Regions from separate parts of the Homo sapiens genome. Here region 1 is linked to region 2. Evidence: fine-mapped expression QTL. A gene starts in region 2. The other region holds a variant in brackets. All regions are shown on one strand. Distances are between the middles of the regions.

What was found. PIP is the estimated chance that this variant, and not a neighbour inherited with it, causes the effect. A credible set is the group of variants that fine-mapping cannot tell apart.
Region 1: its variant is the best candidate, but not a certain one, in a credible set for the expression of PPP1R14C in fibroblasts (GTEx, PIP 0.75).

What each region holds. Positions count from the first base shown.
Region 1 is chr6:150,266,538-150,274,868 of GRCh38, forward strand. LOC105378054 (a long non-coding RNA gene) reads left to right here and starts at 2,875. Exons shown (of 3, transcript XR_943109.3): 1 at 2,875-3,433. RefSeq lists a cis regulatory region at 4,822-5,854 and an enhancer at 7,053-7,553. The variant A/G (reference allele first, on the strand shown) is at 3,393.
Region 2 is chr6:150,139,108-150,147,438 of GRCh38, forward strand. It overlaps PPP1R14C (protein phosphatase 1 regulatory inhibitor subunit 14C), which reads left to right and starts at 3,937. Exons shown (of 4, transcript NM_030949.3): 1 at 3,937-4,391. The coding sequence starts at 4,086.

The DNA of each region.
Region 1 (8,331 bases), 130 kb after region 2:
TTTGAAAAATGTAGGTGATCATTGTTTCTACATAGGGTGGTTGTGCAAATTGAATGAGTTGATTCATATGAGGTACTTAACTCACTCAGTGCCTGGCACATAGAAATACCCAATAAATGTAAGCTATTATTCCTATTATCATGTACACATATGCCCTAAATTCTTTTGTGTTGAGCCCCACATTCTTCACTTGTAGGAAATCCAGACTTCACAGATTGTTCTTCCTCAGATATTTTCCAGATTCCTGGGTTACCAGGAATAATTGTACACATTGGAAGTAGATTGATAAATATATAATTAATAAGATTTTGCCTTCTGGAAAAGAATCCCTCCAAATTAAAACAATCATGATTAGCCTAGTGTATTAGTTTGCAGGCTGCCATAAACGAAGTAGCAAAAACTGGGTGGCTTAAACAACAGAAATTTATTGTCTCATAGTCCAGGAAGCCAGAGCCCAAGATTAAGATGTTGGCAGGGTTGGTTCCCCCGGAGCGCTCTGAGGGAAAATCTGTTCCATGCCTCTCCCTGAGCTTCTAGCCTCAGGCGTTCCTTGGCTTGTAGGGAGCTGTCTTCTCCCCGTGTCTTCACATCGTCTTCCCTCTATAAGTGTCTGTCTCTATGTCCAAATTTCCCCTTCTTGTAAGGATGCCAGTCATACTGGATTAGAGTCTTCCTGATGACTTCGTCTTAACTTGATCATCTATAAAGACACTATGTCCAAATAAGGTCCTATTCACAGGTGCTAGGGGTTAGAACTTTAACATCTTTTGGGGGTAACCAGTTCAACCTATAACACCCTGCTTTCATACTGGGCCCAGTAAACTGTAAACTGTGCTTATATCTTGGCCCCAAAGTAATGCCCTTTAACTGGTGAATAAATTCCTGGTTTCAAGGTATTTATGTGCAGAGGACTCCAGCTGACTAATGTTGAGGGCCATGTGCTGTTATTTTAACATTTACTGTTGTTATATTTCAATATCTTTTTTATATCTTACAATAAGCCCTCATTTAGTTGGTGATGCTAGTGGGAAAATATGGGTTGGAAATAAAACTAGAAATAAAAAAACTATGATGAAGGCCAAAACCATGACACACACTATGCTATTACCTTCAGAGGAGAGGAGGCTCCGTGAAATATCAGAGACACTGCCAAAATAATTTTTACAAAGCATTATTACATGGTTGTTGATGTACACACTCTGAGAAGTTATTTCCCTTCCTTGCATTTATTTCCATGTAAAACTGACTTTGGGTTATACAAGGACTTTGGGCTGAGTCCCTCGGTGCAACACTCCAGCTCAGCACTTATGGAATGCTGCATGCCCGCCCACACATCTTCACCCGCGGCTCCATTGGATGAAACATCATTTCCTGAGATATCACCCTGAAATGTATAGGGAGGCAACTGTCACTATATCATGTAGATGCAGTTACTGAGATACACAGAGCCTAGAGGCTAGTAAAAGGCAGGGCCCGTTTGTGCCATAGCCTCCGGTGGAAGAGCGTGGGAGAACAATAGAACCCTTCCATGTGTACAACACTGAGTTCAGAGTGTTCAAGGAGCTGGTTCCAAAGTTCTTAGAAAGATAGCAAAATCCGTAATGATGGGAAAAGATGGAGTTACCCACTGTGGATCCATTCTGCAATGTTTCTCCTTGAAGTGAGATCAAATGCCTGAGCACGAGTTGTCCTGAGGTCTCCTCCTTTTGAAAGAGATTGGCCAGAAATCAATTGCCTGATTGAAGTCAGCCTTGCTGTTAACTAAAGATCAAGCCAGATGGCGCAGGTCACTAAAGATGACTGGTTCTGCCCCTGCTGGGAACAGTTCTTGGGCCAGCTGCTCTAAGTCCCCCGCCAGCTTTCCACAAATGTCTGACCATCTTGTCACCCTCTTCCTGCAGACATGATCAGACACATTCCCTTCCCCTGAGCCTGTCTGTAGGGAACTGTGCAGTGCCAGCAGAGTTCTGGAAGGATGAAGTGCTGAGTCTCTGTTGGGTACAGACACATCCAGTTACTGGCAGGACAGAGTAGTGCTGTGGGCATTTAATCAAGATTCTGTTAGGCAGGGAGGTGTGCTGAGGCTGGAGTTCAGCAGGGAATGAGAGCAATTGCTTATATTTCCTGAGGAGCTACGATGGCCAGCTCAGCACTAAGTGCTTCATATACATTACTTCATTTAATTCCCACAACATTCCAGTGAGGCTGGTGGGTACTAGTACTGCTACTGTCCCTTTTCACAGAGAAGGAAACTGAGGTTCCAGGTCATAAAGAAGTTGCTTAAGCATACAGCTAAGAGCAGGAGAGCCAGGATGTTAGCCAGTTGGTCTGATTCCAGAGTAAGGTCTTCAGGTCTTGGAATCAGAGTTGGTCTGATTCCGAGGTTGGTCTGTCTGCAAAGACATCAAGGAGTTCACAGTGCAGTGGGAGAGAGAGACAAGCCAGCTGGGATTATATGAAATGATATGAGGATATGATATGGTAATGTGATATGATATATTATATGATCTGGTATAATGATATATGATGATATGATATGGTATGATGATATGATAATATGATATGGTAAGATATATATGGCCTGTGATGAGGCTGTGGAAACAGGGAAATAACACTGGATGGAGTCTTGTGGGGGCAGGGAGATCATGAAAGCATTTCCAAAGTTGGAGTTCTAGCTGTGTGTCCCCACAGCACCCTATGATGGTTAATGTTATGTTAACTTGACTGGGCCATGGGATGCCCAGATATTTGGTCAATGTTATTCTGGGTATTTCTGTGAGGATGATTTTGGACAAGGTTAACATCTAAATTAAGAGACTGAGGACAGCTGATTGCCCTCCCCAATGCAGGTGGGCCTCGCCCAATCAGCTGAAGGCCTGAAGAGAACAGAAGGCTGAACCTCCTGTGAGTAAAAGTCCTCCTGCCTGGATGCTTTCAAACTGGGACATCAGCTTTTTTTCCTGCCTTCAGACTCGAACTGAAGGATCCACTCCACTCTTCCTGGGTCTCCAGCTTGCAGACTCCCTCTGCAGATCTTGGGACCTGCCCACCTTTATAATTACGTGAACCAATTCCTTATAATGAATCGCTTTATTTGCACACACACACGTCCTATTGGTTGTTTCCCTGGAGAGCCGTGACTTGTACACACCCTGTTCTTATTCTGTCACAATGCCTGTTACAACATCTCAGCACTGGCCATTTAACTGCATCTCCTACTGAGCTGGAAGCTCTGGTGGATAGGGGCAGGTCTGCTCATTCACTGCTGCCTTCCCTGCACCTGGTACCATGCACACAGAATAAGCCTAGCAGAATGCCTGTGGATGGACTGACCAATGAAAGTAATGAGGTGCTGGGACCCGAAGGCTGAGTGGCATGAGTCATGAGGAGGC[A/G]TAGGTGGAGTTGGAGGTGGGAGGAGGATGATGTAGCAAAGGTAATGGCATGAGTCAAGCGTCTGGCTGAGAATGGGCACAGTGAGTCTCAGACATCAGTGACTCCAGCAGGGCTGGAGCCTGCAGGGGGGTGGCCAGTGAGGGGGAGGGGAAGCTGGATGGTTGGATCATGAAGGGCTTTGCACAAAAGTTAAGCAGTTCGACTTTATCCTGCAGGAAGTGGGGGTGGCTAAAGAGTTGACAGATTCTGAATCTACCTAGCCGTGTGACCTTGGCCAAGGTATTTAACTCTGGACTTGGGTTTTGCTGTTGTTTGGTTAGTTCGTTTCTTTTTTCCATTAGAAAAATGAGGGAAGTAATGTGTCTGGGATGGTTGTGAGACTCCCATGGGTGTGTCGAGTGCTGTGTAAGGGGAGGCATGCTGGACATCTAAAGGCGCAGTGGGCATGGGGCCCACCTCAGCCTTGGCACACAAGCAAGTCCACAACATCCTTCTCCTCTGAAGGCTGACAATCGGCAGAATGTGATGAATGACTGTCTGATGGCATCAGAGAGTTGCAATGCTGTTAAAAGAAAAACCTTAGACAGATTAAGTTTAACAGAGTTTCATTGAGCAAAGAACAAACCTCAAATCGGGCAGCACTGAATGAGAATAGGTTCAGAGAGGCTCTGGCCCAGCCACATGGTCAAAGAAGATTTATGAATAGAGAAAGAAAAGTGACAAACAAAACGGAAGTGAGGTACAGAAACAGCAGGATGGGTTACAGCTCTGCATTTGCCTTATTTGAACATGGTTCAAACACTTGGCCACCTGTGATTGGCTGAAACTCAGCGCTTGGCACAAAGGTTATAGTTGTGTACAGCCAGCTAGATTACAGTTCACCATGTACAGAGAAACCTGGCTGAACTTAAAAATGTAAGGAGGCAGCTTTAGGCTAAACTTGATCTAACAATGCTTTCCCCATGCGCCTGGCATTTCTGTCTTGGGAGCATCCAGATGAATAAATGACGTCTAGGAAGAGTCCCAAGAGTCCCTGGGAGAGACTCACAGGTGCATGAGAGAGGAGTCTGTTTTGAAAGCAAGGCCCATTGAATTCCAACTAGAAAAATCTCCGTTCGTTTAAGAGCCATGTGTCTCCCTGCACTAGTTTGGTATTAATATTTATCCATGTTCTTAGTATATTCAGATCAGCTGCTGACAAGGCCTTTTCATTGATCAAATACACTACTCTATATGAAGAAACATAGAGATTGAGTGGATTAAATATATATCTCAAAGCCTTCCAAACCCCACTTTGCTCCCAAGATAACTATTTTATTTTTCTGAGCTCTCTAGAGGAAGAGAGGCAGATTAGTTTTCCCAATGGTGTAGTGACCAGGAACTCCAGAAATCTGGGGATCAGCAAGCCACTGCACCATTACAGGGCTCCAGGGTCCTACTCCTTAGCCACACTCCAAGGACCAGGAATAAGCCATTGCAAATGCTAGTTCCAGGAACACGCTGACCCAGCTGTGATCCAGGGATCAAAAGCTAACACCAAACCTGTTGGCTACAAAGCTTCCTGTGAGCCCTGCCTCCCTTTCTACTTAAATGAGTTCCTAATTCAAGGCTGCATGAGGGCCTTTGGGTGGCCATTCACAATCACAAGGAAACCTCAGTTGCAGGAGAGTCTGGGATATTCAGTTTGCAATATAAGAAAGCCCTTAGCAGAAGGTTGGGATAGATAAAGAGCTGCCATATTGTCACTGATAAACTGGGTTTTTTCACCACTTTGTGTCAGTCACAAAAAAAGAACATCCAGCTGGAAAAAGCAATCAGGCTTTATTCACTAGCCAAGGAATGGAGAAGGTGGCTCTCACTCGAAAGGTAGCTTCTTCCCAAACAATAGAAGGTGTGGGGTTTTAAGGACCAGGTGCAGGGCGAGAGAAGCGTGTTTGCATGTGCAGGGCGGGACTCCAGATATGCCTAATTCATAAATATATATGTTCATATATCACCTGTACACAAAATGGTGGAGATTTTCCTTTGGGGGAGGAAATTTTAGCATTATAATGATATGTTAATGATCTGAAGGCAACTAAGGGTCATCTATTCCGGTTTGTGCTGGTTTTGTGGCATCTTATCTTCCTCTGCTCTTTGGTCAGTGGTCAGTAAGCTCTGGTGCCATCCCAGGCCTTCTGGTTTCATTAAGCAGCTGTGCCTGTAGATAAAGGGACTAAAAGAAAATAGAAAAAGGAACTTTCCCAGTGACGTCATCAGGGCTGCCCTGGTAAAAATACTGGCTGCCCTGAAGAAGACCTAGATATTCCTTGTTCAGTGTATGCCCTGAAAGATCAATGCTGGAAGCTGGCAAGAGGGAACATTCTCACTAGCTTTCTATTTTAAACAGACATGATTTAATATATTTACCCAGAAAGGTCTGAGCACACATCCTCTACTCTACCTTCCTCCCCAAACCCCACATCCCAGCAAATCTGTACTCAAGGCATTCACAGTTTGCAGAAATGATTTGCTAATCCAGGCTGGGGCAAGCCCCAAGAGAAGAGCTGACAATGACCAGTTTTCTGGGTCAGAGGCACAGAATCGAATGGGCCAGAGGGAGCCCATTCATCTCCCTTTCTTCCTCTTCAAATGTTGCTCCCTGACCCTTTATCTAAGACTGGATGGTTGATGGTCAATAAAATTGAAGTTCCTAAGCTCCTAAAGAGGTTTATGGAAACCGGCGTTTAGCTGGTGTCTCAGTGTGGCTGGTTGGTTCCTAACCAGTCTCTGCTTCTAAACTTTACCTCCAGGGCCAGGCGGGTTCAGGCACGTTCCTGGCGGAAGGTGCTCTGATGCTGTGGAAGACAGTTTCTTCATGGATTCCAACTGCTTGATTTGTGGGAATGACTCAACCATGCCTGTTCTCCCCCACCTTTGATGAGGCATCTGACACTGAGTTAATTCATTTGCATGGTGTAGACTATAGTAAATCCAGTGTTGGGACACTGTGTCATCTTCTTTCTGATTATGATGGTAACAAACGCTTGCCATAGGAGACTGGAAAAATCTATCCTATAGGAATATTGGAAAATCTATCCTGTAGGAAGAAAGAAAAAACTCACCTAAACTTGTACCACACACTGTCAAATCTGGGCACTTTTCCTTCTTTTTGTCTTTTTCCCCCTAAAGCCACAGGCGTTTAAAAACAACCTGAGCATGAGTCAGCCTGTCTGTCCACATCTACATACATGTGATCGAGGCCCTCATCTTGCAGATACAGATCTATTCTCTTGCAGAGACTCAACCTTGGACAATATCATTGCTTTCCACTGCAATATTCATTACTCCATCAACAAATTTTTATTTTTTATTCTTTTGAGACAAGGTCTCACCCTGTTTCACAGGCTGGAGTGCAGTGGTGCAATCATGGCTCACTACAACCCAAACTCCTGGGCTCAAGTGATCCTCCTGCCTCAGCCTCCTTAGTAGCTGGGATCACAAGTATGCACCACCATGCCCAGCTAATTTTTTTTCTTTTTCTTTTTTTGTAAAGATGGAGGCCTCGCTTTATTGCTCAGGCTGGTCTCAAACTCCTGAGCTCAAGCAATTCTCCCGCCTTGGCCTCCCAAAGTGCTGGGATTATAGGCGTGAGCCACTGTGTCCAGCCAGAAAGTTCTATTTTGTATAGCTAGCTTAACAAAACTGCTGCAGTGCTAGCCCCTATTCTTAGTCTATTGCCCATCTGGCCTCCACTATCTGGAAGATAGACAGAAGAGCCCACAACCTTCTCCAGACAACAAAGAAACTGGCCGGTGAAATCATCAAGAGGCTAGCTGGCGTCTGGGGGGTGTGAGGGAGTGCATTGCATTAATGAAGTCTTTTTATTCTTGGAAAAGTGTTTGGACAAAGGCTGTGCTATGCGTATGGCGTCTCTGCAGCTCCTGGACATATGCTCTGACTGTGCTACTTCTGCACACGAAAGGTCAGCATATGGCTTCCTTTCTCTTTCCCCGAGGAAAGTGACAGGCTGGTCATGGATGCCTCACCTGCTGTTGCTCTCGCTCTGGAGAAAGAAGTGTTGGAGGCATCACTGCCAGTAAATCTTCACTGGGCTCCCAGCAGGCCTGGCCTAGCTTGACCCCTTCATGGGTAACAGCAGAAGGCCACCTGCTGCTCCGCGGCTGAGCAACCAAACAGCACAGCTGCTGAGGTTAGGGTTTGAGGTGAAATATAGCCACACACATCTCCCAGGGTCACACGTGGGTAGCCTCAAAGGGCAAATAGGTCTTGAAATGATGGTCTCAGGGGAGAAACCACTTCCATGGCCTGTTCTCGAGCTGTCCAGCTTGGCAGGGTGAGAAAAGTCTGCAATGAATGGCCTTCCTGGGTCTTTCCGTCAGAGCAGCCTGGAGTGTGTGCTGAAGGTGAAACAGCCACCCCAGCGCTTCTCCTCCTCCTCCACACTCCTTCGTCCTTTTAGGTCCCTTGCCCTACCTTTGTCCTTGTTATTGCTGACAGTCAGAGCATCCAGGAAACAGAGCTGGGAAAGAAAGAAACCAGAAGGGAGGAGAGGGGCCTAAGATTGAGGGTTTGGAGAACAGATTAATGCTATGACCTTCAGCCGCCTGGGGACAAAAAGCACCTTCCAGAGAGAAGCCATTGAGCAGTCGCTGACGTTGCATCCATCAGGCTCGTACTGGTTGTAGGATTTGATTTTTAAAAGGCACATGTTTATGACTACGTGGCTTTCTTGTCCCACTCTATAGCAAGCTAACTGAAAGCACTTTCCCCCGTGTCAATCAGTTAAAGAGAAGGCTAGCAAATATGTCTGTGACAGAATAATCTTGGTGTTTCCTAATTTCCACTTCATGGCACTGTGGAAAAAGACATCTGAAGGTGCTGTGGAATTATATGGACAAGGCTGCAGGCAGATGGCGAGGCCGTGGAGAGATTCGA
Region 2 (8,331 bases):
TTTCACCCATTTTTCATCATGTCTGAACAGTGAGGTGAGAACTTACGTTAGTTTTTGAGACAAAATTTTAGACTTGCAACAATGATTGCTGTTGCTTTTTTTTTTTTTAATGCAAGCAACGGCCAAATTATTTTGGAATTACGATCCTAAATTGATCCCAGCCTGATACAATCAAAGGTCCAGAATTAGAAGGAGAAAAAGTGGAGAGTGAAACAGTAGCCAAAAGAAAAACTTCACTGATATACTGTCAACAGCTGTGCTGTTATCACTCTGTAAAGAACAATGAAATATTGGAATGAAAATGGAAAATGCTGTGGGTAACCAATGGAATCCTGAAAGACAGATTAAGTTTCTTCAACATTTATAATGAAAACCAGACTGAAAATAATTTTTAATTTGTCTTTTTGCTTCATCAAATCTTGGAGAGGATTCGGATATAGGCATCTTATCATTTGACATTTATTACTCAAGATAAGAAGATTATGTTCAGGTTTGTGGGTCTCCAGGATGCAATTATAACATTGTCAAAGTAGATTACCAGGTGTTGCATAATTATTGTGCCGTTTAAGGAAATTTGCATCTGAGTATAAACATGTGTATTTAATTATTTTCCTGGGGGGTGACAAAAGTTCCAGGACTCCTGATTAAGTCATCCATCCTGTCTAACAACCTTTGGGCATAAAGATCATATTCAGAGATAAAGGACCTATATAATTCCTAAACAAACAAACAAAAAACTTTGTCCAATTTGGGAAGCAAGTAAAACATAACCAAGCTAAGAAAACACAAAACTACGAAGAAAAAGATTCAAATGAAACATCCTTAGGCTGCCCTCTCATAGCAGGGAGTAATTGCCTTCAGGTAAAAGTTGATTCCGGACCATTCAATTCACTGAAAGCTATTCACTGTCTTAGATTAACCAGCACCTAAAAACACTTGACTAAATAGGCTAGAAATAAAAATGTTTTCCTTGAATAAATGTATATATTATTGGTTTTGTAGATGAGAAATACCACTGGTTTTGCCGAATTTAAATAGTCAGCTATGTAAAGGGTCTCTGGACTAGGAAAAATTCCTTTATTCCTAAATATTTTGGCTTCAATATTTGAAATCTGCAAAAGCAGTATTTCTATCTGTCAAAATGAGGCCATTAAGTTTTGATTATTCAAACCTGGAATGAAGTGTGTGTGTCTGGGGGTAGAGGAGATGATATGGACTTCACTTTGAATATAAATTACGTACTGGGTGGAGCAAATGGATTTAAAGAAAGAGGAACCCTGGTTCAATTCTATTTGCCAGTCAAGGTGACTCACTTGAACATCTGAAGGCCAGCGTACCTGTGGAAAGAGACTATTTCCTGGATTTTCTTCTGTGAGTCAAGATGCTTAAAACCCATGTCTTTTAGTATCTGTCATTTTGGAGTTGTAAGGGAAAATTGAGTTTTAAGCATAAAGGAAAAAGCATCTTATGCTGTGAGAAAAAAATTGACATCAGAATTTCTCAGAAAGAACTTAGTGAATTTTTTAAAATTATTTGACGTTATCCTTGAATGACTGATTTCGTTGTCCAAAGACTTAAAGAAAGGAGTTGGAATTCCCCAGACTTTGCCAAACTGTGGGATGGCACAATAGGTATTGTCAGGTCCCAGGGCCAGAATGAGGTAGAGATTTTATGTAGTTTCTCCTTTGTTAATAACATTTAAGCTGTTTTCGTTCTGATTTGCATTCTCCTGATTAGTGCAGTTGGTCAAAGCTGGTGCTAGCGGACTTGGCCAGATGTCTGGAGCCATATAAGCTGATTCTGTGTGGGAGATGCTGGGGCTGGTTCCTGCCCTCCTTTCCCTTCCTCCTTGCAGACAGAGTTCCATTTTGAGGTGGTCACTCTCTTGGCTGTGTGTTCGGGGTTTACAGTGACCCACCCTAAAGGCAGAGGGGCAGAGGTGGTGCAGAGACTGGTCATCGGTCTCTAGGGGCAATCAAGGTAATTCATCTCCCTTGTCCCTGATAGGCTCGGTGCAAAACCCATCTTCTAAAGGGCAGCTGGCCTCTTCTAGCGGGGCAGAGATCGTTCAGCTTTGACCCCTTTGTAATTATGGCAGGAGTCCAGGGCCCCACACCAGCCACCCTATTTCAATCTCCGCAGATCCTTCCCCTTCACATTGTGAGGCTTGACATGTCCCTGTGAAGAGCCGCAGGCATGGAACACTTTGGGAAAATCCCTATTCAGGCTCTCACTGGAAAACCCCAGACTGAGGGTACAAAGGCAATGGATCCTAAGCCTGGGTAGAGCAGAGCTGGGCGCTGGTGGATCGCAGAGCCTGAAGCGCCAGGAGAAACCTGCTGGTTACTTTTATTTTGTCTTTGTAGTGTCAGTCTAGAACCCCACACAGGATCTTCTCCATCATAGGAAAGTGTTCCGAGGAATTTGACTTGGTATCTATTTTATCTCTGAGAAACTTCTTTGAGTAGCTGCCAGTAACCTTTAGGGCTCTTTTATTTAAAAACAACAACAACAACAAACAAACAAAAAAAGTTCATGGCCAGGCGCGGTGGCTCACACCTGTAATCCCAGCACTTTGGGAGGCCCAGGCGGGCGGATCATGAGGTCAGGAGTTCGAGACCAGAATGACCAACATGGTGAAACCCTGTCTCTACTAAAAATACAAAAATTAGCTTGGTGTGGTGGCGAAAGCCTGTAATCCCAGCTCTTCAGGAGGGTGAGGCAGGAGAATCGCTTGAACCCCGAAGTCAGAGGTTGCAGTGAGCCGAGATCTCGCCACTGCTCCCCAGCCTGGGCAACAGAGAGACTCCGTCTCAAAAAACAAAACAAAACAAAACCGTTACTAAAAGCCGCTTACTTGTATTCATTCGGACGTCTCTGTGGTTTCTATCAGTTCCTGAACAGGAATGTATTGTTGTGTACAAGAAGAATATGTTAGTGTCTCCCTAATTTTACACATGCAGTTTTCTGTTTACAACTTCCCTCCCCACCTTATTGTCCTAACCCTTCTGAGAAGCTCCTTCATGTGTAACTACTAGGCTGTGATGTTTTGCAGTAGAGTCAGGCAGTGCTGTTGCCCTCCTGGGTGGAAGGGGCTGTTTGGAATGGGATGGAGAGAAAGCTGGCAGTGCACGGGACGCAACACTAGAAATGTGAAACCAGGACCCTGTCGCCGACCCTCTTAGAGAAATGTTTACTGTCTGGATGCCCCCAGACGCCTTGCCTGAGCGCCGTCACGCTTTCTGCCCTTTGGATACGAAGATATCCGAATGCTGTGCCCATGATTAAGCAGACGCTTAGTAAGGAAAGAAAACATTGGTCTGGAAATAATTTCTCAAGCGCCGTGACTGCCTTATTGCACAAACATCGCCTCTTCGATGTTTCTCACAATCCAGAGAGGAAGTGGCATCCATCGTGGCATGAATAGGAATGTGTGTTTGGAGCCGTGGGGCGGGGCTGGAGGGGAGGGGACGCTACCCAGCCAACAGAGGAGACGGTGGGGCTAGGAAAACCTCCTGGGGGAGCCTGCGGCGCGGTCCTTTCCTGTGTCCCCTTCGCTGCGGGTCCTGCCCGGGGCCGCGCCAGGTGGAGGCCCCGAGAGGCGGCGCGTTTCCTGCGCTCCGGGATTGCGGGAGAAGCGTGAGTCCCTGTCTCCGAGACTAGAGGCCACGGACACCCGCGCAGGAGCATCCCCTGGCACCCCGCCCCACGCCCGTCCTTCCGGAGTCTACACATCGGCGACCTCCCGTGTCTAGGCGCACACATTTCCCGCCCCGCGGAGACTCCCACGCCCCGGGCCCTCTCTGCCGCAGGCGCCAGATCCCGCCTCTGGGGGCTGGACCGAGAGGGTCCTCGGCGGCTTCTTTAAGGCTGCGGTCCCCGCCCCGTCGTCCTCCCCGCCCTCCTCCCTCTCGCCGCGGCTCCTCCCGCCCTCCCAGAGCAGCCGGGCGGCTGGGCGCGCGCGGCGCAGAGCAGGTGCCGGGGAGCCCTTCGCATGCGGCTGCCGGGCCGGAGGTGGTAGCGGCGCCGGGCGCGCTCCGCCCGCCCCTCCTCCGGGCCGCACTGAGGCTCGGGCGCGCGGGGACATGTCGGTGGCGACGGGCAGCAGCGAGACGGCCGGCGGGGCCAGCGGCGGCGGCGCACGGGTTTTCTTCCAAAGCCCCCGGGGTGGCGCCGGTGGCAGCCCCGGCTCCAGCAGCGGCTCAGGCTCCTCCCGGGAGGACTCGGCGCCCGTGGCCACGGCGGCCGCTGCAGGGCAGGTTCAGCAGCAACAGCAGCGGCGACACCAGCAGGGAAAAGTGACAGTGAAATACGATCGTAAGGAGCTTCGGAAGCGGCTGGTGCTGGAGGAATGGATCGTGGAGCAGCTGGGTCAGCTCTACGGCTGCGAGGTACCTGGGCGCGGGGCTGGGAGGGTCGGGGACCTCTCTAGCTCCTCTGTGCCCGCGCAGTAATTTTCCCGGGCTCCAGCTCCGGGGCGCGCATGTCCCTGACTCCCGGGGACCAAGTGCCAGGAGCGAGGCGCGGCGCCTTCTCTCCCCCGCGGTGCCCTCTGGCGTCGGGCTCAGCGGTTGGGACGCCCCTGTCTGGGTTCGGCTGCCGGTGCCCGGGGATCTGCGGGCCCCCTTGGTGGCCGTGGGGAGGGTTGGGTCCCGCGGAGCACAGTGCTTTTCTCCGAGCTCCGGGCGCCTCTGGGCTCCAGCTGCAGCTGCGCAAAGCGGGGCTCGGAGGGGCTCACTCCAGCTGCGCCTCAGCAGCGGTTGGGGATACAGCAGCCAAAGAGAGCAGCGCTCACTGCTGGGATCCGGGCAGCCCTGATTTTTGTGGAGAACGAGCAGGGAAGGAAGGAAGCTGCCTCGTGGAAAGGAGAGGTTCTGGGGATCTCAGAGGCCCCCTTGGTTCTTGAAATTCCCCGTGAAAATCCTGAGATGGAACGCTTTCCGCTTTCCAGCCAGCCCCGACGGTGTCTCCATAATTCCGCCCTGCATTATCAGAGCTGCACACGTTGTGCTTTGTTGAAGCCGTAGTTTTTCCTCTCTAAGCTCAGTTACTCCCATTGATGGGCGCAGAATGAGCATCTGGGGCAACCTCGACGGGTGCCTCGGTGGAAGGGCGGGAGCCCTGCGGGGGGCCTGCGGGATCCCGGGATCTGTCAGCTTCAGGCTCCCAGCTCCCCTCTCCTCCACGACATCGTGACTTCCCAAGGTCCAGGGACTAAGGTCATACACAAGTCTCAGGGACGTGTATACATTTGATTTAGGGAGAAATATGTAGAATAAACTGCAGCAAAACGACTGAAGCCAAAATGATCTCTCATGAGCATCTTGAATAACAGTTATTAATTCTAAATGAAGTGACCTCCTCTTAAGGGAGTGGAGTTTGGAAAGGGTGGAAGCATGAAGGGGTTAATAATTAAGAATGTGGCTTCTAAGCTAAAGCTAGGTTTGTGTTCATTCAACTGTTGTGCTCTTCAACAGAGATGACAACCAGATGAACTCACAGGCTTTACCACTAATGTCGGGTGTTCTGTATTTGACACATTTCATGGCCTGTTGTGAAGACACGTTTTCTTAAACACCCTCATTGCACAAGAAAACAGCATACTCGTTACTGACTACTGATAAATGATTATAATATAATGAAGCTTGACTGTATGACTAATGGGGTTGTAAAAATGTGTTGTTTCTCCAGTCCAGCTCTTACAAAAAGCTAATTTAATTGCATAAATAAAAACTGGCAAACATAAGAAGTATTCATGAGATTTTTATAGGAAGTTGGCAAAACTCTGTAAAGAAACATTATTTGATGTAGATGGGATTACTGTTGGATGAGTGGATGTGCTCAGTCCTGCCTCTGTAGAATCCAGTTAATTTTCATTTATTTCATACTGTTTTTTTTTTCTCCATTTGGGATTTGGAAAAGATTCGAATTAATAGAAAAAGCATTGTTGAAATTAACAGTGCACCAGCATGGTTCTTTTTGTGGGAGACTAATTAGGCTTAGATTGGGAAGCTAGAAAGAGCTCTACCCACTGAGTAGCCTGATAAACAATATATTTAAAAAATACTTCAGAATAATTAGAAAAAATGGAGGTTTGATTGTTTCCTGTGTGGAACATGTAGGTTAGGTATATATTTTAAAGGGTAAACATGAGCTTGAATCTTTTCCTTGTATTGTACTTTTCTTCTTGGGTTTTAAATCTTCAACCCGTAGCAAACAGCTAGACATTTGAAAGGGAGGTTTTTGTGGTGAAATAATTCAAGATGCTCTATATGCTGCCTGCATGTCATTAACGTGGCAAGTATTTTTCTTCAAGTTGTTTGTTCAGTCATTGTAGGCTGAAGGAAGAGAAATAATTAGGTTGTTGGCAATTTGTAATCACTATGCTGGTGGTGTACCTCCATTTAATAATAAAGAAACATGGGCAAATAAGTAGCCAAATAAAGGCTTGTCTCTTTGCATCTATTTCTCTGCTGATAGTGCTCTATTTTTAGCATTGGGTTCTCTTGTTGAGTAACCTTTCTTTGTTGATAGCTTCAAGTATTTCAGCCTCTGGTTTGTGAATCAAGAAGGACGCACCCTAGCTTACAGCTCCGAACTTCATGCATACGAAGATTAGGAAATGTCCTTTTTATACTTAAAAGTGGTAATTCTTTCAAATGTTTAGCCCATGAAAGTGACACAGCCAATTTCCCAGCCTTCAAACCTCAAACCTGCCAAAGGCTTGAGTTATCTGCTGAGTTGGGGTAGAATATGAACACATCTTTAATTTCAGAAGAACTTGACCCAAGCAGGTTAGGAATCAGATGACTTGACCTTTTCAGAATAGAAAATAATCTTTTGGAGCAGTGTAAAGTGATGTATTTAGAAAGAGGAAGAGGAAAGAAGAAATACACAGAACCACTTTCTGTCTGTGTTTTTTTCTGGAAGTGTGCAGTGACTAATCAGTTTTGTATGAGAATAATGTCATAGGGGAATTTATTACCTACCTACTAGGTGACTAGGTGCTCTTCTAGGTACTTTGGGCTAATTCATTTAGTCTTCATAACAACCCTATAAAGAAGATGTTCTTTTTATCCTTGTTTAAATGTAAATAAAGAAGTGAAGACTCAGAGAGGATTAAAAGGCTGCTTCAAGCTCATGTAGCTGGTGGGTGGGTTGGGGTTGAGGATGAACCCAGTCTGGAATCTGAGTCCACTGTATACCCATGAGGCCTGTCTGTACCGTGCAAGAGAGCAAATGTAGGTCTACAAGACATCTGTCTAAATGTTTAAAACTTATGAGTTAAACTAACAACATTTGTATAAAATTTCTTCTGTCCACTGATCTTGACAGCTACATCTTCATAATGACCTTGAAGTCTAGGTTTGCATTTTGAATTCAAAATGTTACTTCCCAGAGTCATGAACTGAAATGCAGTTAGGAGACTGCCCTGGCCTGGGTTTCTTCCCTTTTGCTTCCCATCCTTGGTACAGTCCCACCTGGTAAAGGACACTGTGTCCACTCGCACGCCCAGTCTTGGTATGCACCTGCCACTCCTTGACCATGATGCCTCTGCACACACCAGTGGTGATGTCCCCCTAGGCCAGAACAGATCTGGGAGGAGCTTGTTCATGCCCTAGAAGCTACTTGGGATTTGAGAAGGGAATTCTGGGGACCCGGATCACAGACTAAAACCAAGTGGAGGGGCACTGGTTCTGGATAGATGTGTCCACTTTGTCCTAGGAAGTCTTCAGGAAGACAGGTTATGGCAGGAGTGGGGCCCGGAGATGTGGTCCCCTCTTACCCAGTCTAAGGGCAGCACTGTAAAATACCACGTCAAATAGCCTTTTGAATACGTAGATAAGTGCTTTTATTGGATTCCAAAATGATTTGTTATGTGCTTATAGTTCTTTTCCATCTCATCTTCTCTTGGGAAGGCTTATACAGGTACATTTTCAGCTAGGAATTTGATTATAATGTAACCATTAGACTAAATCTACATCTACATCCACATTTAAGGATTTCTGTTTAAAGACCTTTTTTTTTTTTTTTTAATCTCTTCCAAACCCTGGTGGGTTTTTTTTGTTTTGTTTTGTTTTTGTTTTTTTGAGATGAAGTCTTTCTCTGTGGCCTAGGCTAGAGTGCAGTGGCGCAATCTCAGCTCACTGCAACCTCCGCCTCCTGGGTTCAAACGATTCTCCTGCTTCTGCCTCCTGAGTAGCTGGGGCTGCAGATGCGTGCCACCATGCCCGGCTAATTTTTGTATTTTTAGTAGAGACAGGGTTTCACTATGTTGGCCAGGCTGGTCTCGAACTCCTGATCTCATGATCCGACTGCCTCAGCCTCCCA